Regions from separate parts of the Homo sapiens genome. Here all the other regions are linked to region 5. The links come from fine-mapping of genetic effects on gene expression. A gene starts in region 5. Each other region holds a variant in brackets. All regions are shown on one strand. Distances are between the middles of the regions. Region 1 overlaps CPM (carboxypeptidase M). Region 2 has its middle 25 kb from the start of CPM. Region 3 has its middle 120 kb from the start of CPSF6. Region 4 holds the start of TODL (transcript overexpressed in dedifferentiated liposarcoma). Region 5 holds the start of CPM (carboxypeptidase M). Region 6 has its middle 110 kb from the start of CPSF6.

Region 1 (4,995 bases), 77 kb after region 5:
GGCCAGATTTTGCCTCTTTCTCTTTGATGTGAATTTCTCTGAGAAATTCAGGATTCTTCTATTTTGCTTAGTGGGGCTTATGCCAACCATAGCAGTCATTCTATATAGAGCTAATCCTGGGAGAAGGTAGTCATCTCTTCTGTAGTGAAAACTGAGTTGGTATTTTATTATTTCATCTTGAGGACATCATGGAAAAAACATGGTTTTTAGTTTATAAAACTATAGAATTCAGAGCCTCCATGCTCCATGGGTTCTCCCCAAGGTGCCTAGATGTGAGGCTTATCAATTGCTAATCCTTTTAGGAATTTCTACTCCTGCCGAGAAAATGGATAGAGCTTGAAAAATCTCAACTCACTGTGAATCTTTGTCTAAAAAGGCCCTTTATTTTCCTCCTATTTACTGTGATATTTCTATTCTATTTAAAAATATGATTTTCCCTGTAGTGAATCTAAACTTATATGCAACCTCATAAATAAGCCACACCTTTAGAATAAAGTTATGAATTGTTCATTTCCCATTAGTTAGACTAACACAGTACACATTGACCCTAGATATTAGTTCTAGGATAATATTTGAAGGTAAGACTCTGGACATTGAAATGAATGTGTAAAATACATACCAATGAGTGGTTATGTAAATGTCATTCCCCATTTTTTCCCTTCTCCACCATATATAATAAAAGCATTTCTCAGTAGACATTGCCTGTAGTTAGTTTAGCATTTGTCTTGTCCTGATCATTTCCTCCACTAAAAAAAAAAAGAAAGCCTAACCAAAGATTCAGGCTGATATGAACAAAACCAGGTAAAATCAAAGCTTTTAAAGGAGGGTGGATGTGGTGGCTCATGACTGTAATCTCAGCACTTTGGGAGGCTGAGAGGCAGGTGGATCACTTGAGGTCAGGAGTTCAAGACCAGCCTGGCCAATGTGGTGAAACCCTGTCTCTACTAAAAATACAAAAAATTACCTGGGCATGGTGGTATGCACCTGTAATCCCAGCTACTTGGGAGGCTGAGGTAGGAGAATCGCTTGAACCCGGGAGGCGGAGGTTGCAATGAGCCAAGATTGAGCCACTGTACTCCAGGCTGGGTGACAGAGCAAGACTCTATCTCAAAAAAAAAAAAAGAAAAAAGAAAAGAAAGAAAGAAAAGCTTTTAAAAGAAGCAATAGGCTTGTAGGTCAGCTGAAAAGAAATTAGTAAGTTGAGAAAATAATTCTACTTGAAAATAATCTTGATATCCAAGGAGGATGTTAAATACACACTTGGGACAAAGGGAAAGAGTTATCTCTTTACCCTTCTGCCCCACGAAAAGGATGGTGGCAGAAACATCTGCTGCTTCCTTCTCTTGACTTACATTGCCAGATGAGGTACCCATCTGTCCTTATTTCATTTTGTAATTCTTGGCAACAGCATTCACAACGCTGGTCTCTGTCAACAGGCATTGGATAACTCAGCCTGCAGGACCAAATCTGTTGCTGGCCCAGAGGTCTGGTAGATTGTTACATGCATTGCACAAAGGCTGCATTTTAGTGATGGATATCAGTGTTTTCAGTGTGGGCACCACGAACCATCTTAAGTCACTCATATAATTGTCTCTTGTTTCTTCTCAGGTTACAGTCCCTGGACATGATCCACACATCACAAAGGTGATTATTCCGGAGAAATCCCAGAACTTCAGTGCTCTTAAAAAGGATATTCTACTTCCATTCCAAGGGCAATTGGATTCTATCCCAGTATCAAATCCTTCATGCCCAATGATTCCTCTATACAGAAATTTGCCAGACCACTCAGCTGCAACAAAGCCTAGTTTGTTCTTATTTTTAGTGAGTCTTTTGCACATATTCTTCAAATAAAGTAAAATGTGAAACTCAACCCACATCACCACCTGGAATCAGGGATTGCTCACTCCAGGTTACTGCAACCCTAACTCACTCTAGTGGGACCTTGACTGGAGAAACTCCACGATCTTCCTGAAGAAGAGAAATGGATGTTTCCAAATTCCACAATAAGCAATATGTGGTGATAATGAAAAGAATGATTCAGTCTTGACGGTGAATGGAAGACACTTACCTAACAAGTACTGCTCATTTACACTCAAATTAATCTTGAAGTAGTCTTAAAATGTGTAAGAAGTTAAAACTTGAGAAGCAAAAAAATGCCTGCAAAAAGAAGATCATTTTGTATACAGAGAACCGGATGAATATAAGCAATGAAGATGAACATTTATTGATCTTCTACATACAAGACTTCACCATAAGGCCAGGAGCAGTGGCTCACACCTTGTAATCCCAGCACTTTGG[G/A]AGGCCAAGGTGGGCGGATCACCCTGAGGTTAGGAGTTCAAAACCAGCCTGACCAACATGGTGAAACCCTGTCTCTACTAAATATTAGCGGGGTGTGGTGGCGGGCACCTGTAATCGCAGCCTTTCAGGAGGCTGAGACAGGAGAATCGCTTGAACCCTAGAGGCGGAGTTTGCAGTGAGCCGAGATAGTGCCATTGTACTCCAGCTTGGGCAACAGAGTAAGACTCTGTCTCAAAAAAAAAAAAACAAAAACAAACAAACAAAAAAAACACCTCACCATGAGTGCTACATGTGAATAGATATTAAGTGCCATATATAATTAGTTCTCAGAAGAAGGGAGAAATGATCATAGGACTGGGAATTGTTTTGCAAACGTTCTAGGAGATGTGAGAGAAAATATGTAACCACATCTTAGTGGCCCAAGAAAATACAGGCCTGAAGGGATAAGATTGTGTCTCTATAGAGCTTCAAAGCATACAGGTCAATTAAGAAAGCCCCTCTCTCTCCAGAGCCGTTTCCCTAGCTTTTGGCACCTGGATGCCACAGTCCTCCATTAGGCTGATGACTCCAAAGATGTAACTCTAGCCTCTTGCCTGAGCTTCAGACTCGCGTCCCACTGCCCACAGGACACATCCACCTGGATGTGACTCACAGGTACCTCCAACCCATCATGTGGAGATACTCATCCTGTTCCCCCTAGAGCTGCTCTTCCTGCTGCATTCTCTCTCTCAATTACTGGGACCACCAAGCTAGGAACCTGGGAGTCATCCTTGATACTTTCTCTTCCTCCTTAATCCTGTGTATTCAGCAAGTAACTAAAGGTTGGTGTTGGCCAGGCATGGTGGCTCATGCCTGTAATCCCAGCATTTTGGGAGGCCAAGGCGGGCGGATCACTTGAGGTCAGGAGCTCAAGACCAGCCTGGCCAACATGGTGAAACCCCATCTCTACTAAAAAAAAAAAAAAAATTAGTCGGGCGTGGTGGTGCATGCCTGTAATCCCAGCTACTGGGGAGGCTGAGGCAGGAGAATCGCTTGAACCTGGGAGGCAGAGGTTGCAGTGAGCCGGGATTGCGCCATTGTACTCCAGCCTGGGTGAAGAAGTGAGACTCTGTCTTAAAAAAAAAAATTGGTGCTGATAAATATTGATGAATTCTGCTCTCTGCTCTCTATGGTTGTCAACACTGCAGAGTTGAGGCCTCATATCTCACCTGCACTGCTGCAACAGCTTACTGGTCCCTTGCTCCCAGCCTTCTCCTCTTCAGTCCATCGTCCACACAGCACTGGGGAAGGGGAGCCACTTGAAACAAAAGTCAACAACTGGTTGTAGTTCATAAACACAGAGCTGTTTGTGTCCCCTGTATCTGGAATGCCATTATGACCCACTACATTTTTTCTTTCCTACCCCTCTTAAAACTCAGTTCAGGTAGCAGCTCCACTAGGAAGCCTTGGCTGACCATAATCCCATTCAATTCCATTTCACCTCTTCGCAGGCAGTCTGGGGTTAGGGACCCTTTCTCTTTGCTCCCCAAAATAAACTGGTTATCTCTACTATTGGATTTACAACATTGTATTATAATCTTCTCCATGTGTGCCTTCTCTAGTAGAATGTGAGCTCTTTGAGGCCAAGGTCTATTTAATTTGTTTGAAAAATTCATTGTTATATCCTCAAAGCCTAGCACATAGTAGGTACTGAATGAATGAATGAACAAGGGGTGCCAGGAGACTGCTACTCCCAGTCCTTCCCAGAAACTGCCTAGGGCTTTGAGTCATTTTATGAAGCTAGGTCTTAATGCGTAGGCAACCTCCCAGCTCACTATGAACGCTGACAGAAGAGTGTTTTCATGTCTATAATCAAGAATTCCAGATACATTCCTTTTACTGAACCTTGAATTGATCCTAAGATTGGTAGTAAAGGTATTATGTTACCTCCTAACAGCACTACAAAGTACCTTTTTTTATCAGAAAAAAATTTTACCATTAGGACTCAATTTGAAGTACTAATGCTTCTCAAGTTCTCCACTATGAGAGTTACCCTGTATTAGACCGTTACCTATAAGAATTAAGGGGTAAAGCACTAAACAGAAAAGAAAAAAAAAATAGCAACTCTGGTGAGCAGATTTCTTTCCTTTCTTCCTTCCTTCTCCTCTTCCTACCTTCCTCCCTCCTTTCCCTCTCCTCCCCTTCTCTCCCTTTCCCTCCCCTTCCCTTCCTTTTCTTCTTTCCTCCGCTCCCCTCCCCTTCCCTCCCCTTCCCATCCTTCTTTCTCTTTTTTTTACTTAATCCCCAGTGTGACAGTAATATAGGCTGATTTCTAGAAGTGTGGTGTATTACTCATGGAAAGTGAGTTGCCTTGGTTATTACTTTCAATTGAAAGTTCTATGGGATCTAGAAATGAGACATACTGGCATGGAGAGTGAGAACGACAAAGGAATGAAGAGCTACAGGAGCATTTAGGCCATTTCTATGCCAAGCTTATTCTACATGCACAAAATCATACATGTTAATAAATATAAACAAATTGGAGGCTTATTTAAACCAATTATGAAATCTGGTAATTTGTGCAGCAGCAATAGATGATAACCAAAAAAAACTCATAATAATCTGAATATCTTGATCATTTGTATTTAAAGAAGCAGTAATTATATACTTGAAAGTACATAATATAGTATTGCAAAAATGACTTTGGTATATTACAAA
Region 2 (4,995 bases), 25 kb before region 5:
TTTCTCATAAATATTTACAAGTTTTAAATAGTTGGATGTTAGTCACCCCATTTATCTTGGTGTTTCCTTGTGAATGAAGCCCATCCAACGTCGACATCGTATTGAGAAAAATCTGTGAAGCTAATGAAGAAAGAAGAATCAAGAGTGCCAAAAATAAATGTTTCCATCCTGAGCCAAAGAATGAATCACTTGTGCATTCATATGTTATAGAAAATGTGATTCCTTTTTTCCAGTTTTACAAGGCCAACACCTATCAGCAACACAAATTCTGACTTTTACTGACTTAGACTAGGTCTCAAAAGCCATAAAAAGGCCGTTCATGGAAATGAACAAAGAATGTATTTGTATCTTTATCTGAGAAGTCATGCCAGAATCCCTTTCAAATCAGCAGGGTAACATTTGGTTTTACATTTGTATGTTTTAGTGAGTTTTATAAACCCTGAAGCTAACCGATTTTTCTTGTAAAGTAGAGAAGTAAACTGATTTTGGGAGAGACGCCTGGGGATATAGCAGAGCTGAAATGTTTGTGCCTTGTTTATTAAACATGATCATCCTCACCAGAAATTACCATAGCATCAGGTTTCCCAGAAGGTTCTGAGGGCCAGAGTTTGTGCTTCACTTCTTCCTTATTCCTAAGGCAACTAACACGATGCTAGCATGTGAGAAGCACCCAGCAAACCCTCTCTTCACCCTCTCTCCAATTTTGGCCTCTCGTGGGAAAACCCCCTCCTTGCCCATGATGTTTCACCCACATCTGTCTTGACTGGGCAATGCCCCCATGCAGCCAACTTTTCATATTCTCTCTTTCACACTTTCATTATAATGTATTTGTCCTTGGTCCAACTGCCTTTGATTTCTAAGATAAAAATGATTTGAAAACTAACTCAGTCTTAAGTTTTGAAGAATTAACAGCGTAGTACAAGACCTCTGTTCTCCTTTAGGTAATTTTTTTTTTTACAATAACAATGATATTTTAAGGCAGTGGCCACTGGAATTAATCTAAAAGTTGAAATGTCTTATTAGGCAATGGGGATTTTGAAACACTTCTGAGTCTCATCATTTAGGTTGCAGTCTATGGAGAGGACTGGCTCTTTCTAAAAGATATTCATTCATTCATTTAATCATCAAACATATCCTGAAGACTTACTCTGTGCCAGGGACTGCTGTGGGTGCTGGGATGCAACACTGAACGGGATGACCAGGACCCTATTCTCATGGCATTCACATTCTGAGGTGGCAGGAATGTATAAATAAGGAGAAAATATGTAATAATAGTAAATGGTATGACGAAGATAAGACAGAGATGTGCAAGGAAATGACAGCTGGGGTGCAGGAACTGGGGGCTACATCTAAGTGGTCAAAGGTCTCTCAAAGAGGATGGCATTGAAGTTGAAACCCGAATAAGAAGGAACCAGACATGGGACGACTTAGGAGAAGAATGTGTCTGGCACAGGGCAGAGCTTGTGCAAAGGCCCTTGGGTGAGAGGCAGATCTGTGTGTTCAGGGCACGTGTGGCTATAACATAGTGTTACCAAGGGATGAGAGGCAGGCGGGGATAGTTCATATAGCGTCTCAGAGGCCAGGAAGGAAGAGGCTTTGGGTTTGATTCTGAGTGTGACTAGAAGCCCCTGGAGTGAAAAGAACATGTTCTGATTATGTTTTAAAACACCCCTCTGGCATTTGAGCTATAACTAGACTACAGGTGCCAGAGAGGAAGCAGGGAGGGGATTAGGAGAGAAACGATGGTATCTCGGACCAAGATGGCAGCAGTGGAGGTGTCACAAACAGCATTAGGAGGTATCTTGGTGATGGAGTTAACAGAACTTCCTGATGTATTGCATTGGTTGGGGTGGGTGGAGAGTCAAAGACTCCTGGGGTTTTGGTTTGAGTAACAGTGTAAGGTGGTTTCATTTCCTGCGACAGAAAAGCTGGGGGTGGAGGGGACTGAGTGGAAGGGGTTTGAGGGGAAAATTAAAAAAGGCATTTAAAAATCCCCTTTTTAAGTCAGGAAACAACAGAAGCTGGAGAGGATGTGAAGAAATAGGAATGCTTTTATACTGTTGGTGGGAGTGTAAATTAGTTCAACCATTGTGAAAGACAGTGTGGCAATTCCTCAAGGATCTAGAACTAGAAGTACCATTTGACCCAGCCATCCCATTACTGGGTATATATCCAAAGGATTATAAATCATGCTACTATAAAGACACATGCACACATATGTTTATTGCGGCACTATTCACAATAGCAAAGACTTGGAACCAACCCAAATGTCCATCAATAATAGACTGGATTAAGAAAATGTGGCACATGTATACCATGGAATACTTTGCAGCCATAAAAAAGGATGAGTTTTTGTCCTTTGCAGGGACATGGATGAAGCTGGAAACTATCATTCTCAGCAAACTATCACAAGGACAGAAAACCAAACACCACATGTTCTCACTCATAGGTGGGAACTGAACAATGAGAACACTTGGACACAGGGCGGGGAACATCACACACTGGGGCCTGTCAGGGGGTGGGTGGCTGGGGGAGGGACAGCATTAGGAGAAATACCTAATGTAAATGATGAGTTGATGGGTGCAGCAAACCAACATGGCACATATATACCTATGTAACAAACCTGCACATTGTGCACATGTACCCTAGAACTTAAAGTATAATAATAATAATAATAATCCCCTTTTTAGTATCTAACATCCAATTAAAAGAGGAGTCATGGCTCAATCCTCAAGAAAGAAACATGATTATATGGAGT[C/A]TTTGCCTTATGTGGACACAGTATGCATTTTGGAAGGAAAAGTCAGTCTTCTGGGAAAGTGTGGAAAATCCAAATTGGACAGAACTCATTGAAAAAGGCAAGATTTCAGTCACTGGAGCTGTATTTCTCAACTGCATTTTGGAAACTTTTGCCAGCACATTCTTAAGACAGGGAGCTCAGAAGGGAATTTGAATCATGGAGATGCTACTAAAGGAACAGTATGGTGCCCCCTTAGCTGAATAAAGAATCACCAGAGAGCTGTGTCCATGACCACTTTTTTTTTTTTTTTCTGAGAATCACTGCTTGGTCACAGCACATCACAGACACCATTTCTGGAATACAGGTTTGAGGATACCATGTCAGCAGCTTCAAGAAGAGACCTTCTTGCCAGGACACAAAATGATGCTCTCCTCTGGGAACCTGCTTTGAATAGTGGGATTCAAGGACATGAGACCTTCTTGCTGGATTTTTATGATACAATCTCTACGATTTTACAAATAAAGGAATAAAACCCAGATAAGATGATGTCTACCCTTCCTCGGGGTGGTCTGCTGATTGTCTGGTGATGGCGTCAGGGCAGCCAAAGACAGGATAAAGGCCGAGGAGGGTGTTTGTGCCCTTATGTTATTAGCACCATTGTTCATAGGACTTGTGAGAGGATTCTGGAACCAATAAAGGGGTAGAAACAGTACCTGATTCATAGGTGAACTGGAACAAACAGGAATTTACCAGACCTGTGTTGAAGCTAAGCCATATTTATCGCAATGTTTAAGATTCTCAGAAATCACATTTTATGTCTATCCATAAGTAAAATGGAACTGCCATTAATAGAGCTTTTACAACGTAACATGTGAACTGTGATTTGGTGCTCTGAAAAAACACGGAAGAGTGGGAAGGAAGGTTCTAACCTTGGCTCCTGATAACTTGTTCTATGTGTGGAGCAAATCATTAACCTGTCTGTTTTTTACTGGGCAAATGGGGATAATCAAGCACAGGTCCTTCGGCCAATGGGTTGTGATGATTAAACAAGGTAATTTTGTGCAAGGAGTCCAGGTTTTGGAGTCAGACAGACCTAGGTTTGAATCCAAGTGCTGGTGATGGCAGCAGTGGCCTGTGTGGAGTGGCTGCTGCCATGATGCCAGCTGTAGTGGGGGAGGCGTGGCTGGGGCAGCAGGCTCCATGGAGCCAGTGGGAGCCGGGAACAGACCCTTCCAAGTTGGCGGGATGGGATCCCTGCCCTCCTGGGTGCAGCTGCAGCTGCCCAGCCCTGGCTACAGACCCTGGCATCCCTGCACTCTTGGGGCCCAGGAATTCCCCCTGCCCCTGCAGACTCAGAGGTGACTGCTCCCACTGTCTAACCTCTCCCTGCTCCTGGCACCTGCTCCGATTTTGGAGCAAACTGTGGCCAAACCTGGGTGCTGACATGACTTGGCCAAGTGTGCATGCTCTGAGGCACTGACATGCCAGCACCCTGCCACCTAGGACCCCTCCACACTTTGGGCACTGACGAGCATGGAAAGCAGTGTAGGCCTGCAGGAGCCCCTTAGCAGGAACAGCCTGGGCACTGTGGGTGCCGTGGAGGGCAGGTTGATGGTGGCAGGAGGCAGACAGGCTCCTGGGTGGAAAGGGGCAGGTACTCAGTGAAGCCCCACCTCCAAGCTGGGGACGGCCTGAAGCCTGGGGGCTCGGCTTTCAGTTCTGCAGACTGGAATGAGAACTTATGGTGCTTTTTCTTGGACACCCATGGCCACCCATGGACCAATCCATACACACTTTCTCCCCTCTAAAGCCTGTATAAACCCCAGACTCAGCCAGACTCAGGCAGACATGGGATGACCTGCCTGAGGATAGGAGCTACCTGCTCTGGGTCTCCTCTCAGCTGAGGGCTGCACAGACCTCAGGACAACCTGTCTGCGGATAGGAGCTACCCACTTTGGGCCTCCTCAAGAACTGTTCTGCTGCTCAGTGAAGCTCCTCTCTCCCTTGCTCATCCTCCAGTTGTTTGAGTACCTCATTCTTTCTGGATGCAGCACAAGAACTCAGGACCCACCAAGTGGCAGGACTAAAAGAGGTATAAATTAAACAGGGCTGAAACATGCCCCCCCCACCCCCACACACACTCACCATGTTGTAAGCAACAAGAAGAAGAGAAGAGCTGCGGCCCTTTGGGGAGCACAGACCTGGGGGCTCCTGAACCCAGGGCTGTGACACCCACGGTTCTGTGGTCCTGGCATTTC
Region 3 (4,995 bases), 190 kb before region 5:
ATAATAATAGCACTTTTCCTCATAAGGTTGTTGAGAGGATTAAATTGATGCAAATGCTTATTCCATTCTTGGCACCTAGCAAGTTCCCTTTACTTTTTGCTATTAGTATATTAATACAAATAGTGTGAAACCACGTCTCCCTCATTCACCTTTGGAGTAATTCAGAATCTCCTTGGAGCCATTTATCTGCAATGGCAACGCCTGTGTGAGGCACTGTATGTCTTGAGGTTGCTCAAAGTGTCATTGTGAGCACAGTTCCTGGGCAGATCTCCGGAACTCACCAGAAAGAACCTTCAGTAGCATCCCTCATGCAACATCCTGCAAAATTCTGTGCTTCCATGTCAGCCCCACACTGAGGTAGGACCACGTGAAGAAGTGGAGAAGTGGAGACAGCGCCTGGCAAGGCCTTGCAGGGAGGGTCATGGTTCACACAAACAGCAGAAGGATGAAGAAGGACAGCAACAGCAGGGGAGGAGCTGAGCTCCTGCTGAAGGACCAGAGCTTGGGCTCTCTGGGCTTACTTCACTGTCTTCTGATCACTATTCGTGTCAGATTTCGCGTGGAGACCCCTTTTTCAGCCCACACAGAATATGATTCACAGTTAACCCACCGTGCAGTCTAACTTCAATCCTGGCACAACCTTCTAAAATTATGCAATTAAAGACTCCACTAGAATGAAGTGTCTGAGAATGCTATTTAACCAAGTGGATCAAAAGGGACATTTTAAAAAGCGGAGAGAAAGGGTGAAACAATAAACCTGGGAAGAAAAAGAAAATCGAAACCAACAACCTCCATCTTCCCGCTTCCTGCTGTCTCATTTCTAGGTGGCTTTTTGTCTAGTCTTATTTGTCTTATTTATATGCTAATCTCCCCGGGGAAGAAGGGTGTCACCTCGATTTCAGGGCTGCTCCTACACTGGGAGCAATTCTTTGGAGGTGAAACATAGCGATAACAATCTCATTGTACTTGGCTATACCTTAAGGGTCTTCTTCGCCTCCTGATACTTTACCCATTCATGAAACACTGTTTTGAACATTGTTTTGTGTTATTAATTTGAAGATTTTAATTTTTTCAGCTATCTCATTAGGTGGCAGGTATTATTTATTTAAACAATCCTGAGTGCCTACCACGGGCCAGGCACAGTTCTAGAAACTTGGGTACCTCAGGGAACAAAACAGATGAAGATGCGTGTTCTTATGTGCCTACGTCTTAGTGGCAGACACAGGCAATATGATAAGCATGACAAACAAGTACATTGCACAGCGTGCGGATGGTAGGCGCTGTGGCAAAGAGAACAAGCAGAGGGGAATTGGGAGTGCCGTTTGGAGGGGTGGCTGCTTGATTTTCCCCATTTGCCAATGGGAGGCTACATTAGGGGAAAGCATTCCCTCCCTTTCCCTAATTTCCCCCAGTCTCTGCTCTGAGTTTTGTTTCGCAGTCTCTGACCCTTTTCTATATCCCTTTTAAAATGGGAACAGTATTAAATGCAGTTAAGCACTCTGGCTCTGAAGCCAAAGGGTCTGAGGTTGATTCCTAGATCGGTGGCTTGCTTCTCTGTGTGACCTTGGGCAAGCTGACTTGTCTCTGCTTTGATTTCCTCATCTATAAAATTTGCCTACATAACAGGGTTGTAGAGAGGATGTTTCATGTTACTATGAGGTTCCTAGACCAGGGTCCGGCACAGGGTAAGCACTCAGATGTGGGCTTAAAAGAAGAAAGTGATGTCCCTGTGTTGTGGGGTAGGGAGGGTCATGAGTAGGAGCATATTTACAACACCCATTTCTATCCCTAAACGCCCCCAAAACTAGTTACATGGGGCTCCCTCATTCAAGGCCTGAGGTCACTTCAAAAATGAATAAGAATGGCACCTCCCATATCCCTTGGTTTATTTCCAAGAACCAATCTTCCTTTTTCCTAGTTTTTTTAAAAAACAAATTCTTGCATTATTGTTTCACTTTAACTTAGGTTTAATCACACCAAAAAAAGGTGGACGGCATTTGCTTTGTTGTGCAGCTACCTGAGACGTGACTTTGACCTATTTTTAGGTCACGATGGTCACGTTCCGCTGTTGTTTGACCTGTGCTTCGTTACCATTAAAACCCACACCCTGTACCCCACTTTCATAAAATAAAACAGGTAGCAAAACTTAAACAAAATATTAAAGAGGGATGAAATAGGCCAAACCATTTTAGGTTGGAGAAAATACTCATGATTTTGCCTATTTCTGGAGATTTCTACAAATCTAGTCTCCTCTAAAGCAGAGAATGCAATGTACTGAAGGCAAAATTCAAAGGC[G/A]GAATAAACAAAAACCCTGCCAAACAAACTCAATGTATCTAGGCAACATCCCCAGAGTACCTTATTTCCTGAGTGTTGAGTCTCAAGGACCTCTCCCATAGTAAATTATTAGCTTAGTGCAAGGTCTAAGATCTAGATAAAAGAGAAAGAAAAGGAACGTTATTTTAAGTTGAAAGTCAAACACATTTAGTGCATCTCTGTGATATGGAAATTAAGTCTATCCTTCAACACAGTGACAAGAACAAGGAGTTGGACAAACAAACCATAGAAGCAATGATTGCCTTTGTTGCACTCCAGTTCTCATGCAGGTGCCTCCTTAACCCTGTCTAAAGTGCAGGAGGGTCTCCTTTGTCAAGGGAGGATCAAGGAGCTCTACATTTTCAGACCAGCTTGGGTAGCTTCCGGTCAGTCTTGCTTAAGGCTTTGCACTGATCTTGTACCCCACTGACCAACAACTGGATCCCTACTTTGATTTCTAACTTGGGACTCCAGTTCCCCTGGTACTGACTTAGATGGCTCACTCTCTAACCCTGCTGGGTGTTCCTGTCTGGTGTCTTCATAGAGAGTCTTGAGGGAGGCCTTTCGGGTGCAGCCTGCCTGGGTCTAAACTTGTGCCACTCTCCCTGACTCTCCAGCACTGCTCTGTCCACCTGTCTGGATGTCCTCCTACCTGGACCTCTCCAGCCCACAGTCTGCCATCTTGGACCACCACTGGTCACACAAATCCCCAGATAACACACTCCATCTGTGTCTCAGCCTTGCCCGCTCTGGCTGATCCCACTGTTCACCAAGTTTCCATCCTGAGCTGAGAACTGGAGGCAGCTATAGAAGGGAGGAAGAAATTGGGCTATATGTGTTAGACGTTCCATTCTGATCTACAATTTCAGTGCTTCTTCCTCATGAGGCACTGTCCTGAGGATTAAATGAGTAAATGCATCTAGATGATACCTTAGCTGAAATCTGAAGTATGAGACTGACTTACCCCGACATGGTGGAGGGGTGGAAGTATTCCAGGCAGAGGGATCAGCCAAGTAAAACCCAGACATCAGTGTCCACGCTGTCCAAAGGCCCCTGGATGGCTCTGCTGGACCAAGGAAACTATCTATTGCTGTGGACACCATGTCCTGGACCTCACTGTCTTCTCAGAAGGGTCCCAGCGCAGCAGGCTGCTCAGCCATGTTTCACTTCACTCCTTTCCCAGCAAAACCTAGACATTCTTGATTAGACTGTGTAAGGTGCTAATTAAAATCACTTAAGTGAACCACTTCCCATTTACTCTTAATTTTCAAGCACCACCATAATGATGCACCATTGAATATGTGTCAGATCAGGTTGGCACTAAATTTTAATATACTGTGACATTGAGCTCCATTTATGTACCTTCTCCTCAGTGAGCTGTTCACATAACAATACGGTATTTTGCAACACTGTGAGCATTGATTAAACACCGTGAGTTCTGTATTTTGCTACTTCATTATCTTGTCTGTCTACTTACAAATTTTAGGCACTTTTTTATGTAATTGAAGATCCCATAAAATGTGGACTGATACTTCTATAATCCACATGTCTAATCTATATGCTTATCTGTCTTTTTCTTCAGGAGCACTTTAATTGATTTGTACTATATATCATATTGTTTTTTCATATGCACATATTTTAGAATTTAGCAAAGGGCGGAGGAATGTCCAGCAGGAGAAAGTTGAAAGTATTTTATTTTTTTGAGACAGAATCTTGCTCTGTCACCCAGGTTGGAGTACAGTGGCGTAATCATGGCTCACTGCAGCCTTGATTTCGTGGGCTCAGGTGATTCTCCTACCTCAGTCTCCTGAGTATCTGGGACTACAGGTGTCTGCCACCATGCCCAGCTAATTTTTTGTATTTTTTTGTAGAGATGGGGTTTCACCATGTTACTTAGGCTGGTCTTAAACTTCTGGGCTCAAGCAATCCACCTGCCTGGGCCTCACAAAATACTGTGATTACAGTTGTGAGCCACTGTGCCTGGCTGAAAGTATTTGATTGTTTTCTTTTCTGTCTTTTCTTTTTTTTGAGATGGAGTTTCGCTGTTTTTGTCCAGGCTAGAGTGCAATGGTGCAATCTCAGCTCACTGCAACCTCTGCCTTCCTGGTTCAAGTGATTCTCCTGCCTCAGCCTCCCGAGTAGCTGGGATTACAGGCACAAGCCACCACACCTGGCTAATTTTGTATTTTTAGTAGAGATGGGGTTTCACCATGTTGGCCAGGCTGGTCTTGAACTCCCAACCTCAGGTGATCTACCCACCTTGGCCTCCCAAAGTGCTGGGATTACAGGTGTGAGCCACCGCACCCGGCCTATTTGATTATTTTCTAACCAATTTAGCTCACAAATCTAGTAGCCCTTTCACCATTCTCTCTAAGGATTAATAAACAAAAGGTTGCTTTACATTTCCAAACTTGTTTCATTGCCTTTCCTCTCCATGCTCTAGCCCCTAGTGTATATTTGTGCTACTGCTGATAAAAGCTCATTTCTGAGTTAATTCACACAGGGGTCCAACGGTTTTTATTGTTGACAATATACAGGATGGAACCCTTTGATCAGCCATCTTTTAGGCTAAATTAATTTTATTAACCTTGGAATATGTGGAATTGGTATTCTTTTAAGAATGTGATTGGAAGCCAGGCATCATGGCTGAAGCCTGTAATCCCAGCACTTTGGGAGGCTGAG
Region 4 (4,995 bases), 74 kb before region 5:
TTAGTGATAGGCTATACATTGTTCAGCTATAGGGTATGGGTTGTATTGTCTGATGCAACATTATTAGGTTAATTTATAGATACTTGTAGCAATAGCAAGCAATTTCAAGAGATGAATATGTAGCTCAAAGGAGGCGATAGAATGTGATTGCTGTTTGATTTTAATGTCTCTCTGGGCTTGGTAATTTAAAAGGATTTGGATTCCTCAGATAAAAGTTCTTCTCGCCTCTTCTCTTCTCTTAGCTGCTGCTGCTTCTTATTCTTCTTCTTCTTCCTCTTCTTCTTCTTCTCCTTCTGCTTCTTTATCTTCTTCTTTCCTCTCTCTTTCTCTCTCTCTTTTTCTCTCTCTCTCATTTCTTTGTTTTGTTTTGAAACAGGGTCTTGCTCTGCTGAAATGCAGTGGCATGATTATAGCCCACTGCAGCCTCCAACTCCTGGGCTCAAGCCATCCTCCCACCTCAGCCTCCAGAGTAGCCGGGACTACCACTGTACACCACTACACTCAGCTAATTTTTATTTTTATTTTTGTAGAGACAAGGTCTTCCTCTGTGTTTCCCAGGCTGGTCCCAGATTCCCAGGTTCAAGCAATCTTCCTGCCACGATCTCCCAAAATGCTAGGATTACTGGAGTAAGCCTCCATGCCCAGCCTCTTTTCTCACTTCTCAAGCCTTGGAATTAGACTGGACACCACCACCCTCATTTCCTGTTTCATGTTTCTGCACGTAGTGCCACAGGATAGGCACAGTAGACCCAGCTTCACAAGTAATATGACATAATCAAAAGAAATGTTGAAATGTTGCACAATCTAATGGTGACGCTGTCAACTACCGTGAGCTAATAGTTTGTGTGGTACCTGAATGGGTGTCAGGTATCACTGTGCTTTCCTTACAATTCTAAAATATCCAGTGGCACCCCAGGGCACCTTGGTACACAGCCTGGAAACCATGGGCTTGGAAGGCACTTCATCCATTTCATATTAGTACCTGTTTTCTCTAAAAATAAAAAACCACTTTATATTTTCCTACTGGACATAGTCCCTCTATTAATGAAGCATCCTCCATGAGAAAAATACAAAAAGGCCATTAAAAGTTCAATGAAAGTTATGAAAAAAAGAAAAAAAAATGAACTCAGGAAGTCTTCGAAAATGAGACAAGGCACCATGATCTTACTAAATCATCCAACATATGTCAAAATGTGTAATAAAACACATTTTTCCTTTGAATGCTAGCCAACTTCTGTTGTTTGCTTTGATTGACAGCTTGGATAGACTGGAACAGCAGGGAGCTGGTGAAACTACACTCCCAGGACAAAACAGGTTTCTACATTTTGTTTTGTTTTGTTTTGTTTTGTTTTGAATTCTTTGAAAACCAAGGAAGAAAGGAGAGGGAGCAGGACAAAGAGAAGAAGGCAAGAAGAGATCATCGCTGTCCTCACTTACACAGCTATTTTTTCCATTCAATTATACATTCGGCAAATATTTATATTCTCTTGCCTAGAGGCAATCATATTTGCATCAAATACTTGAATGCAGGATGTTAAAGAAACAACAGGCTGGTCAGAGTCCGGGCTACAAAGGCTTACAAGATCCTTAGGCTTGCACTAAGCACCTTTCCTCTGCTGCCTTCTGCCCCCGCTTTGGTGAGGTGACATTGTCCAGGCCTGCTCAATTCTTTCCTTTGTTGCACCCTAAGCACCTTCGCACCCCAATCTCTAGGTCCAGCAGGACCAGAACAAGGGAAAACAAAGCCTCACCGCAGGACAGTGTAGTTCAGGGCATGCAGAGCTCTTAAATCTTCAGTCATTCAGAAAG[AAGG/G]GACTGTTGCTCTTCACCCAGGAAGAATCTTAATTATCCAAATGCATAGGGGCCCTCATGGGTGGTTCCTTAAAATCTATGTGAGTCATACAATCAAAAAAAAGAAAAAGCAGATCCTGAAATCCGTGAGTAATAGAGCACAGTTTCAGAAGCAGGGGTACATTTTTTTTGCATTTGCTTCCAGATTTCTGAACTTAGGTTTCACTCTATAGAAATCTGAGCTGGTGGTAAAAGGAGTAAAAATGAATGTGTTATGAGCCCCTTGGTTCATAATGGGCATTTTCTTGTTGCCTCGCCACGGAACAAGGAGCAGCAGTAAGATCTTGTTCTCATCTCACAAAGCAGCTGCGCTGACACTTCAAGCAGCTGGCTCTAATGTCAGCAACTGACGTTTACCGTTGATCATTTCACCAGCTAAGTTAAACACACCAGGCTTGCTCATAAGTGCTGGCCATGAAGAAAGTGCTCGGAAGGCAAACAGCCAGTGAAAAATCCAGCCCCTCAGCACACACAGGAGAAAGTTTCCCTTTTTATAAACTATCTAAAAAGGGGAAAAGGGAGAGGCATCATACTTTAAATTATGAATTAGCTATTTCATGCTGCAGCCAAAGCACTTCTCTGTTGGAGTGAGCATATCCCTGTAATGGCTTTTTAAAGGATGTTTGCAAAGTTAAAAGTCTACAATATGAAAGATTTAACTCATTTGCACCATCATTAAGGAATGAATTACAGTCATGACATTTAAGAGTTGACTGTGTTGTTGTTATATGACAAAGAAACATCCTTTGAGCATTTCCCCAGAGCCTAGGCAGGATCTGAATTTCAGGAACCAACAAGGACCAAGTAAGTGCAATTACTGAAGGTATATAAAATCAAAACACCTGCCCCAAAACTTTGGTTTGACTTTAGGAGCTGTAAATTTCCAAAGCCAAACTGAAAAAAAGAATTGCTAGCCCCAACCACATCATTAAATGAGCCTAGCAATGAGGCACTTGGAGGAATCACAACCGTAAACCAAAAGTATCTGCGACAGATCTCAAAGAACTTAGAGATTTTTTTGGCTAAGGTTAAGGATGCACCCATGATACAGCCTCCTGTGACCTCCTGACGCAGGAGGTCCTGATGTGCCCAAGGTGGTTGAGCCACAACTTGGTTTTATACATTTTAGGGAGACATAAGGCAAGACATCAATCATCCCATGTAAAATGTACATTCATTCAGTCTAGAAAGGTGGGACAACTGGAAGCACCTGGAGATGGGGTGGCTGCTTCCAGGTCATAGGAGGATTTAAAGATTTTCTGGGCAATTAGTTGAAAGAGTAATTATCAATAGAAAGGACGGAAGGAATGTCTGGGTTATGATAAGGGGTTGTGGACACCAAAGATTTATCATGCAGATGAAGCCTCCAGGTAGCAGGCTTCAGAGAGCTTGTAAATGTTTCTTATCAGACTTAAAGAGTCTGTTCTGTCAGTAATTCCAAAAAGGAAGAGGGTATAATGAGGCATGTCTGGCTCCCACTTTCCATAATGGCCTGAACTTGTTTTTTCAGGTTAACTTTGGGATGCCCTTGCCGAGAGGAGGAGTCCATTCAGAGGGTTGGAGGGCTTAGAATTTTATTTTTGGGTTACACAACTCTACCATGGGAGAAAATTTGGAGGTGGACCTCAGACATCCAATGGAATCTAGTTTAGACCTGGGTAAGAAAGATAGTTTAGGAACAAGGAAAATGGAAAAATATAGGTTCCATGGCTTCAAATTCCACCAAAGAAGAGAAACAAGAAAGGAATACATAGAACATTTATAATCTAAACCATACAGAACTCTGATAGTGTCTGAAACGTTGTGGAGGAAGTCAGGAACCCCAGGTGTTTCTTTCAGGGCCAAATAGATCGTGACCCTGAGCAACTGCCCAGCTACAGACTGGGAAAGAAAGGGATGAGTGGAATCCTTGGATCTGGGGTCTCAAGTGCAGATTCTGCTAACAATAGCAATGATAGCAACGTGCAAATTTTTTCCTCCCTTATGGCCTTTGGGCTTGCTCTTCCTTCTACCTATAACCTCCCTGATCCTCATGTGCTGGCTAACTCTCCCCATTCACAACCCTGCCCGTGTCATAAGACTTTCCCACCCATCAGTCACTCTCGGCCACATCACTCTGCTCAAATTCCTTCACAACTCTTACTACCACCTGAATTTACCGTATTTATTATCCGTGTATTTGTTAATGGTCTGTCTCCCTAGTGGGGTAAGTGTTTAACAACTGGCTGTGGGAGAAAAGGAATGTTAGTAAATATATGTAGCACACAACTTCCAAGTAATAATCAACTATACAATACCCTTTATTGTAAATTCCATGTGGTCAGTTGAATCTCACTGAATGCCTTTGTTGATTTTTGCCAAACTCTTGTGTCTGTGACTGCAACTGTGGCTGCCGTTCAACCATGATTTGACAAATGGAGCTGCATCCCTATCTGCTAACTCTTTTCTCCATAAAAGTATTGCCATTTGATCTGATGTCATCTGCTGTTAAACTATTTCCCACCCTTGTACGAATTCTAGTCCCTAAATTGAAACCTCTTTCAGCTTCAGCCATGTTGTTTTCAACAATGCTAGCTATCATTTTTGTATAGTTGTAAGGACTGGAACAGTGTTTAATAAGAGCTTGCAAAATTTTTGAAAATATAACAATCTGCTTTCATGGGTCAACATGAGCCCTGTGCCTCTCCAGCTTGGATGGTAGTAAGTTTTATGAGAGGACAAAGGGCACCTGGCACATATCAAATATATACTGACTCTTACTTCATAAAAAACATACTAACATCAGTTGGGTGTGGTGTTTCACGCCTGTAATCCCAGCACTTTGGGAGGCCGAGGCAGGCAGATCACTTGAGGTCAGGAGTTCCAAATCAGCCTGGCCAACATGGTGAAACCCCATCTCTACTAAAAATACAAAAATTAGCTGGGCGTGCTGGCGTGCACTTGTAATCCCAGCTACAGGGAGGCTGAGGCAGGAGAATCACTTGAACCAGGTGGCGGAAGTTGCAGTGAGCCTAGATTGCGCCACTGCCCTCCAGCCTGGGCAACAGAGCAAGACTCCATCTCAAATAAATAAATAAATAAATAAATAAAAATAAATAAAGCCCACTAATTTAAAAAAAATACTAATCTTGGTTTTGATTCTCT
Region 5 (4,995 bases):
GCGTGCCTGTAATCCCAGGTACGTTAGAGGCTGAAACACAAGAATCGCTTGAACCTGGAAGGCAGAGGCTGCAGTGAGCTGAGATTGCACCACTGCACTCAAGCCTGGGCAACAGAGTGAGACTGTATCTCAAAACAAACAAACAAACAAACAAACAAACAAACAATAAAACAACTTCTCTTTAAGAAAAAAAAAAAGATGGCCAGGCACGGTGGCTCACGCCTGTAATCCCAGCGATCTGGGAGGCCGAGGCAGGCAGATCGCCCGAGGTCGGGAGTTCCAGACCAGCCTGGCCAACATGGTGAAACCCCGTCTCTACTAAAAATACAAAAATTAGCCGGGCCTGGTGGCAGGTGCCTGTAATCCGAGCTACTCGGTAGGCTGAGGCAGGAGAATTGCTTGAACCTGAGAGGAGGTTGCAGTGAGCCGAGATCATGCCATTGCACTCCAGACTGGGCAACAGAATTGAGACTCCATCTCAAAAAATAAAGAAAGAAATAAAAAATTAAAAAAAAAATTCCAACTCTTGGAAAATTCCCTTTAAAGAGTTACGAATTAAGCTGGTTTATTTATGTAATAAACGCTTCGCACAGTTCTTACAATGTGCCTGCCAACCTTATTTAGGTAGGTACAATTAAGACTTCCACTTTACACACCAGAAAATAAGGCACAGAGTCGACACAGCCACTGAGTGTCAGAGCAAGAATTGGCACTCATCCCGTGAGCGCCTCAGTTCTTTTTTTTTCTTTATATATACTTTAAGTTCTAGGGCACATGTGCACAACTGTGGCACATATACACCACGGAATACTATGCAGCCATAAAAAAGGATGAGTTCATGTCCTTTGTACGGACATGGATGAAGCTGGAAACCATCATTCTCAGCAAACTATCGCAAGGGCAGAGCGCCTCAGTTCTTAAACCACTCTTCTATGCTGCGGCAGAATCACTGGAAGTCTCAGGGAGTCCTGAGTGCGCAATTCTAGGAAAAGTATCTATATCTGTAAGAAAGAAGGGGCAGGGAATCTAACGGTTCTCAGCTCTTGAAGGCACATTAGATTCATTCAAGGTCCTCTCTAAAAATACACTTTCTTGGGCCTCCACGAGAAAAATTCTATTCAATTAGTCGTGGGCTTGCATCCGTATTTTTAGTCTGTAAAAGTGGAATGTTATCTCAAATCAGTGGTTTTCAAACTTTTTATATTCTGCGGACCTTGACACGGGCCCCCAATACCCTGACACGGTTACTTACAATCCGGGAGAGAGTGGGAGAAAGGGGGAGAGAGGGAAGGGGAGAGGGGGAGGGGAGAGAGAGAGAATGAATGAGAATGAATCTTTTAGAGAGGTAGAGGGGGTTGGCCCGTGCCACAAACCACCTCTCAGGTTTGAGTGAAGCCTTCGTTCTCTCTCGTGCAGAGACCATGCCATCCTTCCAGAAAGGAGCATTTTAGGACGTTTTAGGACGAGAGACCTGTAATTGGCCTAAGACTCAGGTGCAGGTGGAGGAAGCATCGGATTTACAACAGTGGTCCTGCCTTCTTCGATGTGACTTCCAGTTTTAAATTCAATTCTAATTTACACAAATCCCACCCACTATGTAAACTTGTTGGAAAATGTCCTGCACTCTGCACTTCGTGGCATTTAAAACTTCCACACACGCGCGCGTTCTTTCTCGAAGCCCCGTGATTGCTTAGCCTCGCTGGGCAGCTTGGCACTGCTGGGAGCTTGGCTCGCCCTGCCGGGGCCGACGCCGCCCGTCCCGCAGGAGCCCGCGCGGGGCTCAGGGCACTCAGGACTCCGCATGCGTCCCGGCTCCAGGTGGGCCCCGGCACCGCCAACCGCAGGAAACCCGCCGAGCCCTAAACGTCTCCCAAGCGGCTGCAGTCTGCGACAGAGAGTGTCCCTCGGTGGAGCGCCCTGTGGCTGCCCAGGCTACAGCCGTGGCCGAGGCGAGGACACACTTCTGACCTGGGGCTCCAGCAAAGACTGTCCGCGAGCGGCGACTCCATGCCCGCAGCCCTCCGCCCAGCTCAGCCGCCCGGCCGCGGGCACCAGCAGCCGCGCCACGAAAGGGCGCACCGCGCGGGCGCCGTCTCTCCTAGGTGCGAAGGCGGCTGAGGCCCCGCCCGGGAGGCACCCGCGCGGCTCCGGAGTGGGCCGGAGGGACGTCCGGGGGCGGGGCCCGGGCGCGCCCGCCCTCTGACCGGGCTATAACACCCGGCCCCGCCGGGCGGCCGCGGGTGGGTAGAGGTGCGCGCCTGGGACCTGGTGAGGCTGGGGGTGCGCGGGGCCGGGCGCAGCTGTGGCAGCTGCCGGACGGCGGAGGCGCCAGGAGGAGGAGGAGAGGGAGGCGCGGGCGGCTGGGTCGAGGGCACCGAGGCTGCCCGTGCTCCCGGTCTCTGGTTGCACGGCTCACTCCCGAAGGTGTTGCTTCCAGCTTTTGCCTCCTTAGGAGGCAGGGAGCGTCAGTGTCGGGAGACCCTGAGACCGGAGTACCGAGACGTAGCTGGTGATGCCCCCGCCTGCCCTCATGTGTTCTCAGGTTCTTCTTATTTTTATTCATCTCTAGAACATGGACTTCCCGTGCCTCTGGCTAGGGCTGTTGCTGCCTTTGGTAGCTGCGCTGGATTTCAACTACCACCGCCAGGAAGGGATGGAAGCGTTTTTGAAGACTGTTGCCCAAAACTACAGTTCTGTCACTCACTTACACAGTATTGGGAAATCTGTGAAAGGTAGGGTCCGTCTCGTGAACACTTTGCCAAACCCTCAGTCCTCCCTTTCAGTATTCATTAAATATGCCCCAGCTTCCTGTCTGCTCTTCCACGCACCTACTCTGAGTGGCACAGAACAAGTCAACCGGTACCGTGCGTGTTGGTTGTTTTCTGCTTTTGTTGGGAGGAATAGTAGGAAGAACTGAATTTTACTGGACTTGTCCATTGTAATTCAGTGTCACTGAGTCCTTTCCATTATTGGAGTTCTTCTGTCTTTTTGGATCTTGCAGACATTGGTTATTTGGGATGTATGTTTTAGTTCCTTTTCAAGATAAACTCCCAAGTAAGTCCGTTTATCCGTTTCAGTTCCCCTTTGTGTGGGCTTCTTTATATATGACTTGGACTGTTAATGTCATTTCTTCATGTCTCTTTTAAACTGAAATAATGCAGTTTTGTTGGTAAGATTTCTGTGTCATCTGTAGTTAGCCTTTTATTTAAAGTTATGCAAAACTATCATTTCTGCAAGTTTCTTTTAATCTAAGTAGTACAGTTCTGTTGGTTAGATTTGTGTCGTGTATAATTAGCCCTATGGCTTAAAGTTATGCAAAAAAGTGGTTCTATGATTAAAGGCTGTTTTTAAAATGTATCCATTTGAAGAAGACAATGCTAGATAATGAATATATATTAGTAGTGATTGAAACTCTTCCCAGCATTTTCATATTTATCATTAATAATTTATTGTTCTAAGTTAGAAACTACATAAAGTTATTTTCATTTTTATAGACAGCAAGTTTGAATCAGATAAATTAAATAATTTGTTCAAGGTCTCCCAGATGGTGAATTTTATAGCCAGGACTGGCACCCATCCGGCCAAGGCAAATAATTTGATCAGATATCGTTATTTCATCTTTCTTTCTTTCTTTCTTTCTTTCTTTTTTTTTTTTTTTTTTTTTTGGTCAGAGTCTCGCTCTGTTGCCCAGGCTGGAGTGCAGTGGCGTGATCTCGGCTCACTGCAACCTCCGGCTTCCTGAGTTCAAGCAATTCTCCTGCCTCAGTCTCCCGAGTAGCTGGGATTACAGGAATGCGCCACCACAGCTGGCTAATTTTTTTGTATTTTTAGTAGAGATGGGGTTTCACCATATTGGCCAGGCTGGTCTCAAACTCCTGACCTTGTGATCCTCCTGCTTCGGCCTCCCAAAGTGCTAGGATTACAGGTATGAGCCACCGTGCCCGGCCGAGATACCATTATTACTTAATCATCTTTTATTATCCTGATGTTCCCAAAGAGGTTACCAGAAAACTTAGTCCTTAAATCAAAAGTTTCATAAATTTTATGCAATTTGGATCTCAACTTTTTGTAAGGTGTGTTCAAACTCTACCTTGATTTTAGCTCTGAACTTTTGAGTCAATTGAGAGTCTCATAATTACCATATTCTTCATCATTTTTCAAAAAAATCAAGGCTATGGCTTCTATATTAAAGAAAAAGTATTATATAAATGTATTTATGTGCAATGCGAAGTCAATATCCTGGGCTGTGTGTAATAGTAACTTTGTTTTTAAACAGCATTGCCAAAGAGATGGTGCCAGAATTACTCTATATTGCTCTATAATCCAAAATTATAGAGGTTGGGTGTGTGAGAAATCATATCTTGAATCAGCATACGTATTCAGCCTTCTGAAATCATTTTTCCCTAGGGCTAGAGTAGAGCAATTTAAAAAGATCTAGGAATACTAATTATATTAATTAAAAATATATAGAACACAACTAGCTTGAGTTATTGTTCAGTCATCATTTCAACCACAAGATGATGAGGATGTTGTTAATTTTAAGTACTAAGTGATTTGGTAAGGTTTTGTATTTTCAAACACAATGTGCTTGTGACAGTTGGGGGCTCTCTTTCCTAATATGAATCAGCAGTTGTGATCTATCCTGCATGATATCAAACCACAATCACAGTGAAAGTCAGCAGGCTTAATTTTGTTTTTAATTTTACCTTGTATGCACTCTTGCGGTTAAAGGCTTGAGGAGTTATCATGTAAAAATAAAATCTGACACTAGTGGTTAAATATTTGTGTTGAATATGTTGTTCTGAATAATAACTCGGATTAAGAAAAATCCCAAATCTGCCATTTGGCTCCAACTGGTAGATGAAACTGTATGCCAGTAACTGGGAGTCAGTTGCCAAAGTGTCACTGCACATTAGTGTGACAATTGAGAGATGGTGCTCCTTTGTTGGTGGTCTTTTTCACTAGATATTTTCCCTAACCATTCTGCCCTCTGAT
Region 6 (4,995 bases), 200 kb before region 5:
GGATTACAAGCATGCACCACCATGCCCGGCTAATTTTGTATTTTTAGTAGAGATGGGGTTTCACCATATTGGCCAGGCTGGTCTTGAACTCCTGACCTCAGGTGATCTGCCTGCCTCAGCCTCCCAAAGTGCTGGGATTACAGGCGTGAGCCACCATGCCCAGCCTAGTCATTCATTTTGACTCTTGGCATATGAAATGGTTTCCCACAAGTCTATTTAGACTATAACACGGGACTAGGCATGGTGGCTCACGCCTGTAATCCTAGCACTTCAGGAGGCTGAGGCAGGAGGATTGCTTGAGCCCAGGAGTATGAGACCAGCCTGGGCAACAAAGCAAGACCCCATCTCTGCAAAAAATTTAAAAATCAGCCAGGTATGGTGGTGCATGCCTATAGTCCCAGCTACTTGGGAGGCTGAGGTGGAAGGCTTGCTTGAACCCAAGAGGTTGAGGCTGTAGTGAAACATAATCACGTCACTGTACACCAGCCTAGGCAAGAGAGTGAGACCCTTTCTAAAAAAAAAATAGTATATAAAATGAATTATGAAAATGATTCTAGCAGAAGCACAGGAGGATTTAAATAATTCTGAGTTATAGCATCCAGTGCAGGTGGTGACTTACTCACCTGCTGGTACTGTAAATCTCAGCTACAGAGAATGACATGAGGCTCTTGTCAGGTGTGTTTTATCCCTGGGCTGATGAATGGACTGAGCAGTAACGGTTAAAGAAATTATCTCACCCTTTTCTTCAGCAGCACATGGTGGTTGAGTGCAAAGCTGGATATGAAGCAGGAGGGATTTTAGTCAAAGAGAAGAAATTATGAAATTCTATTCAATCTTATGGATTTTATCCAAGGTTGAGCCTGGATGATGCCTTTGTCTTAGACAGTTATTTTATAAGTCCTTTTGGAACTGGATATCAATTAGTCAACACTTTTCACTGTCTTCGATTTATGTTCCTACTAATGAAGAAGAATAAAGTAATGTTTGATTTCCACGAGGAAGGATGAGAAATGGATATCAATACAGTAGGAGCTGACAAGCTATCTCTGATAGAAGCAAATAGGTCTATTTCTGGGCTTATGATATCTCTGCTTTGGTGGCCTGGAGGCTTCAGAACAAGTTCACGCGGTTGATGACATTGACACAAGGCAGTTAGTGGGCTGTCTAGTTCAAAGGGGGCAAGGTGGAACTTTTATTTTCTTTTTCAGAAGTTTCAGAGTCTCCCTCAAGGTTGAAATGTTTGGGGATTTTATTTTGGTAAAATCGTTGTGGTCTAATTTCTTTATGTTGTATTAAGCCCTCCTCTAACTTAATGTGCTTAAGGATCACCTGGGGATCTTGTTAAAATGCAGTTTTTAATTGAGTATGTCTAGGGTGGGGCCTGACATTCTGCATTGCTAATAAGCTCCCTGCTGATGTGGATGCTGCTGCCCTGCAGACCACAGATTGAGTAGCAAGGCTATAGAGCTTTTGTTTAAACCATGTGTCAGTCAGGGTTATTTAGAGAAACAGAACCAGTAGGATAAAGATAGATGGATATTTTAAGGAATTGGCTCATGTGATTGTAGGGGTTGGCAAGTTCAAAGTCTCTAGGACAGGCTGGAAACTCAGGCAGGAGTTAATGTTGCAGTCTTTTTTTTTTTTCTTTTTTTGAGACCGAGTCTTGCTCTGTTGCCAGGCTGGAGTGCAGTGGCACGATCTTGGCTCACTGCAACCTCCGCCTCCCGGGTTCAAGCAAGTAGCCTCCCGAGTAGCTGGGACTACAGGCACGTGCCACCATGCCCAGCTAATTTTTGTATTTTTAGTAGAGACGGGTTTTCACCATGTTGGCCAGGATAGTCTCAATCTCTTGACCTCATGATCTGTCCGCCTTGGCCTCCCAAAGTGCTGGGATTACAGGCGTGAGCCACGGCGCCTAGCCAATGTTGCAGCCTTAAGACAATTTCTTCCTCTCTGGAAATCAGTTTTTGCTCATAAGGCCTTTCAACTGATTGGATGATACTAAAATACCCACATTTTGAAGAATAATCTCCTTTACTAAAATCTACTAGTTGTGACTTTTAAAAATAATGATCTTTTTTTAATTTTTTTAGAGACAGGGGTCTCACTACATTACCCAGGCTGGGCTGAAACTCCTGGGCTCAGGCGATCCTCCTGCCTCAGCTTCCTGAGTAGCTGGGACTACAGGCATGTCACCATGCCAGCTGCTGTACATGTTAATCACATGTACAAAATATCCTCCCAGCAACACCTAGATTAGTGTTTGATTAAATAACTAGGTATTATTGCCTAGCCAAATTGATACATAAAACTAACCATTACAGCATGGATCTCTTTTTTAAAATGAGTTTCCATTAATGCCTAATAAGCAAAATAGATAAAAGCATAACTGCTCTGCTTAAGTTAGGAGTGGGGATCTGGAGTCTGGCCCTCATTTTCCTGCCTTTCCCCAGGGG[G/C]AGCTCTAAGGAAGACTGTTTCAAAATCATTGCCTTGTATTTCTTCACCTATAACATGCAGATAAGTAGTAGCACCTGACTCAAGATTAAATTAGATCATTTGAGTAAAACCATGTAGTACAATTCCTGGTACATTTGTAGGTATTTTATACACATTACTTGCTTCTAGCTTTACTGTTGTTATCAATCGGAACTATTACTGAAAAATAGGCTTTTCTCAAAGAAAAAAATACAAAGTATTTCAGTATAAGGCCTGATGCTTCACTGAGAGCTCCCAGGATATATTACTGCCTCTACTTTTGTTGCTTACCTGGTGGGCGAGTGGACTGGCTTCATTAACCTCAGCCCCAGTTGAGCTTCTGAATGGAAGATGTCTCTGGGCCCAATGGAAGATGTCTCTACGGGCTGAGCATTGGCCCAGCATTGGGACAAGCAATTAGAGTTGCAGGAGAGAAGGTCAAAGGTTACTGCTGTGTTCTCTTTACTGGCTCGGATGACCACATTTTAACCTTTCAGGTCTCTTGACCAAGAAATAACTGTGGTTTGTCTCATCTGGTAGCTGGAGAAAGTGAGCACTAGGCTTTCCTTAACTTCAGCGGCAAAGAAATAGCATGGCCACAACCTAAACATTTTTTGTTACATGAAAAAAGGGCAGTTTTCTTCAACAGTTTCCTCAGAAATTACAATTTGGAAAGCAAAAGAAGTTGCCTTCTATTGTCCTCATTTTGCTTACAAATAATTAATAAAAGAGGGAACACAAATGTGTTGACAAAAGAAACAGAAAAAGATCTTAAGCCTATATGAGGTCTTAAGTCCTTGAGTTTAAAACATAATGTGGAACTACAAGGAATTTTCCCTCCAAAAACGCTTACTAAAGTTAAGAGATTTTGTTTCAACTGTGTATTTTATAAAATCATCCTGGAACTTGGAAATGAAGTTGTATGCTTTTTGCTCATTTCAGTAACACACATGCAGATAGTGTATATTCTTTGATGACAGTTGGTATTTATGATGCATAGAGAGAACAGCCTCCAGCTCACTGCACAACAGCAATATTGACTCTGCAGGAAGAAAAGCAGTGAAAAACTCAGCTCTGTTAGAAAAGTGAGAAAGTATAACTCAAAGACCCTAGGAATAGTTGCTTTGATTATTGTTTCCTGATGACAGCCTTATTTTACAAAAAGTGCTTAAGAAAGTTTCCATTCACTGTAACAGTCATTTCTCATCTATAATTAATATTCATTATTGCTATAGTTAAGACCGATAAAACCATGAGCAGCATGGAGGCAGGACAGAGTGTGAATTAGGAGTGGTTATGCCAATGCTTTGGTTTTACATAGACTTGAGTTCACATTCAAACTCCAATTAGTTACTGAATGACATTGGGCAAGTTACTGAACTTTTTTTTTTTTTTTTTGAGATGGAGTCTTGCTCTGTTGCCAGGCTAGAGTACAGTGGTGTGATCTCTGCTCACTGCATCCTCTGCTTCCTGGGTTCAAGTGATTCTCCTGCCTCAGCCTCCTGAGTAGCTAGGACTACAGGCACGCACCACCACGCCCAGCTAATTTTTGTATTTTTAGTACAGAAGGGGTTTCACCATGTTGGCCAAGATGCTGTCGATCTCTTGACCTCGTGATCCACCCACTTCAGCCTCCCAAAGTGCTGGGATTACAGGCTTGAGCCACAGTGCCCATCCCTGAACCTCTTTAAGGCTTAGTTTCCTTGTATATAATATGTAATAATACTTTGGAGGGTTGTTTTAACAATCAAATAAAATAAAGCATGTTCAATAAATACTATAAGGTGCTGCTATTGGGTCAGGAAAAGAGCTATGTGGCAATGCCAGGCCCTCCCAGCAGTCATCAGGTTATAATGGCCCATAGGATACCACAAAAGGTGCTAAGAGATTAAATGAACCACATGCAATCCTGTTTAAATTGTGCTAGTGGTAGATTAGGATAAATCCTTCGGTAGCTGTGATACTATAGGCAAATTAACCTCTTTAAGCTACAGTCTTCTGGTGTAAAACTGTCCTGGTGCCTACCACATAGGGTTTCTTCCTTAATAAACTTTTAATTTCAGAGTAATTTTTGATTTACAGAAAAGTTGCAAAGATAGTAGAGAGTTTTACCACTTACCCCTTACCCAGTTTTCTCTATGTTAACATCTCACATTAATGTGGTACATTTGCCAAAACTAAGAAACTGACATTGGTGCAGTGGCTCATGCCTGGAATCCCAGCACTTTGGGAGGCTGAGGTGGGTGGATTACCTGAGGTCGGGAGTTCGAGACCAGCATGGCCAACACGGTGACACCCTGTCTCTACTAAAAATACAAAACTAGCCGGGTATGGTGGCCCATGCCTGTAATCCCAGCTACTTGGGAGACTGAGGCAGAAGAATCGCTTGAACCCAAGAGGCAGAGGTTGCAGTGAGCCGAGATCACACCACTACACTCCAGCCTGGGTGACAAGAGTAAAACTCTGTCTCAAATAAAAAAAAAGAAAGAAACTGACATTGGCAATAATAATAATAATAAT

Evidence for each region. PIP is the estimated chance that this variant, and not a neighbour inherited with it, causes the effect.
Region 1: its variant is fine-mapped to the expression of CPM in whole blood (TOPMed, PIP above 0.99).
Region 2: its variant is fine-mapped to the expression of CPM in whole blood (TOPMed, PIP above 0.99).
Region 3: its variant is fine-mapped to the expression of CPM in lung (GTEx, PIP 0.97).
Region 4: its variant is fine-mapped to the expression of CPM in whole blood (TOPMed, PIP 0.98).
Region 6: its variant is fine-mapped to the expression of CPM in lung (TOPMed, PIP above 0.99).

What each region holds. Positions count from the first base shown.
Region 1 is chr12:68,853,293-68,858,287 of GRCh38, reverse strand. It overlaps CPM (carboxypeptidase M), which reads left to right. Exons shown (of 9, transcript NM_198320.5): 9 at 1,609-4,995. The coding sequence ends at 1,851. Among named protein-coding and RNA genes, the nearest start is that of MDM2, 48 kb to the right of the region's middle. The variant G/A (reference allele first, on the strand shown) is at 2,299.
Region 2 is chr12:68,955,374-68,960,368 of GRCh38, reverse strand. It overlaps a transcript of CPM not described here and the pseudogene PRELID2P1. Among named protein-coding and RNA genes, the nearest start is that of CPM, 25 kb to the right of the region's middle. The variant C/A (reference allele first, on the strand shown) is at 2,759.
Region 3 is chr12:69,121,491-69,126,485 of GRCh38, reverse strand. No RefSeq gene overlaps it. Among named protein-coding and RNA genes, the nearest start is that of CPSF6, 120 kb to the left of the region's middle. The variant G/A (reference allele first, on the strand shown) is at 2,296.
Region 4 is chr12:69,004,493-69,009,487 of GRCh38, reverse strand. TODL (transcript overexpressed in dedifferentiated liposarcoma) reads right to left here and starts at 1,829. Exons shown (of 3, transcript XR_001749099.2): 1 at 1,752-1,829. RefSeq lists an enhancer at 1,352-2,045. The variant AAGG/G (reference allele first, on the strand shown) is at 1,810.
Region 5 is chr12:68,930,415-68,935,409 of GRCh38, reverse strand. It overlaps CPM (carboxypeptidase M), which reads left to right and starts at 2,239. Exons shown (of 9, transcript NM_198320.5): 1 at 2,239-2,268; 2 at 2,570-2,732. The coding sequence starts at 2,573. RefSeq lists silencers at 1,860-1,969, 2,000-2,359.
Region 6 is chr12:69,127,707-69,132,701 of GRCh38, reverse strand. No RefSeq gene overlaps it. Among named protein-coding and RNA genes, the nearest start is that of CPSF6, 110 kb to the left of the region's middle. The variant G/C (reference allele first, on the strand shown) is at 2,457.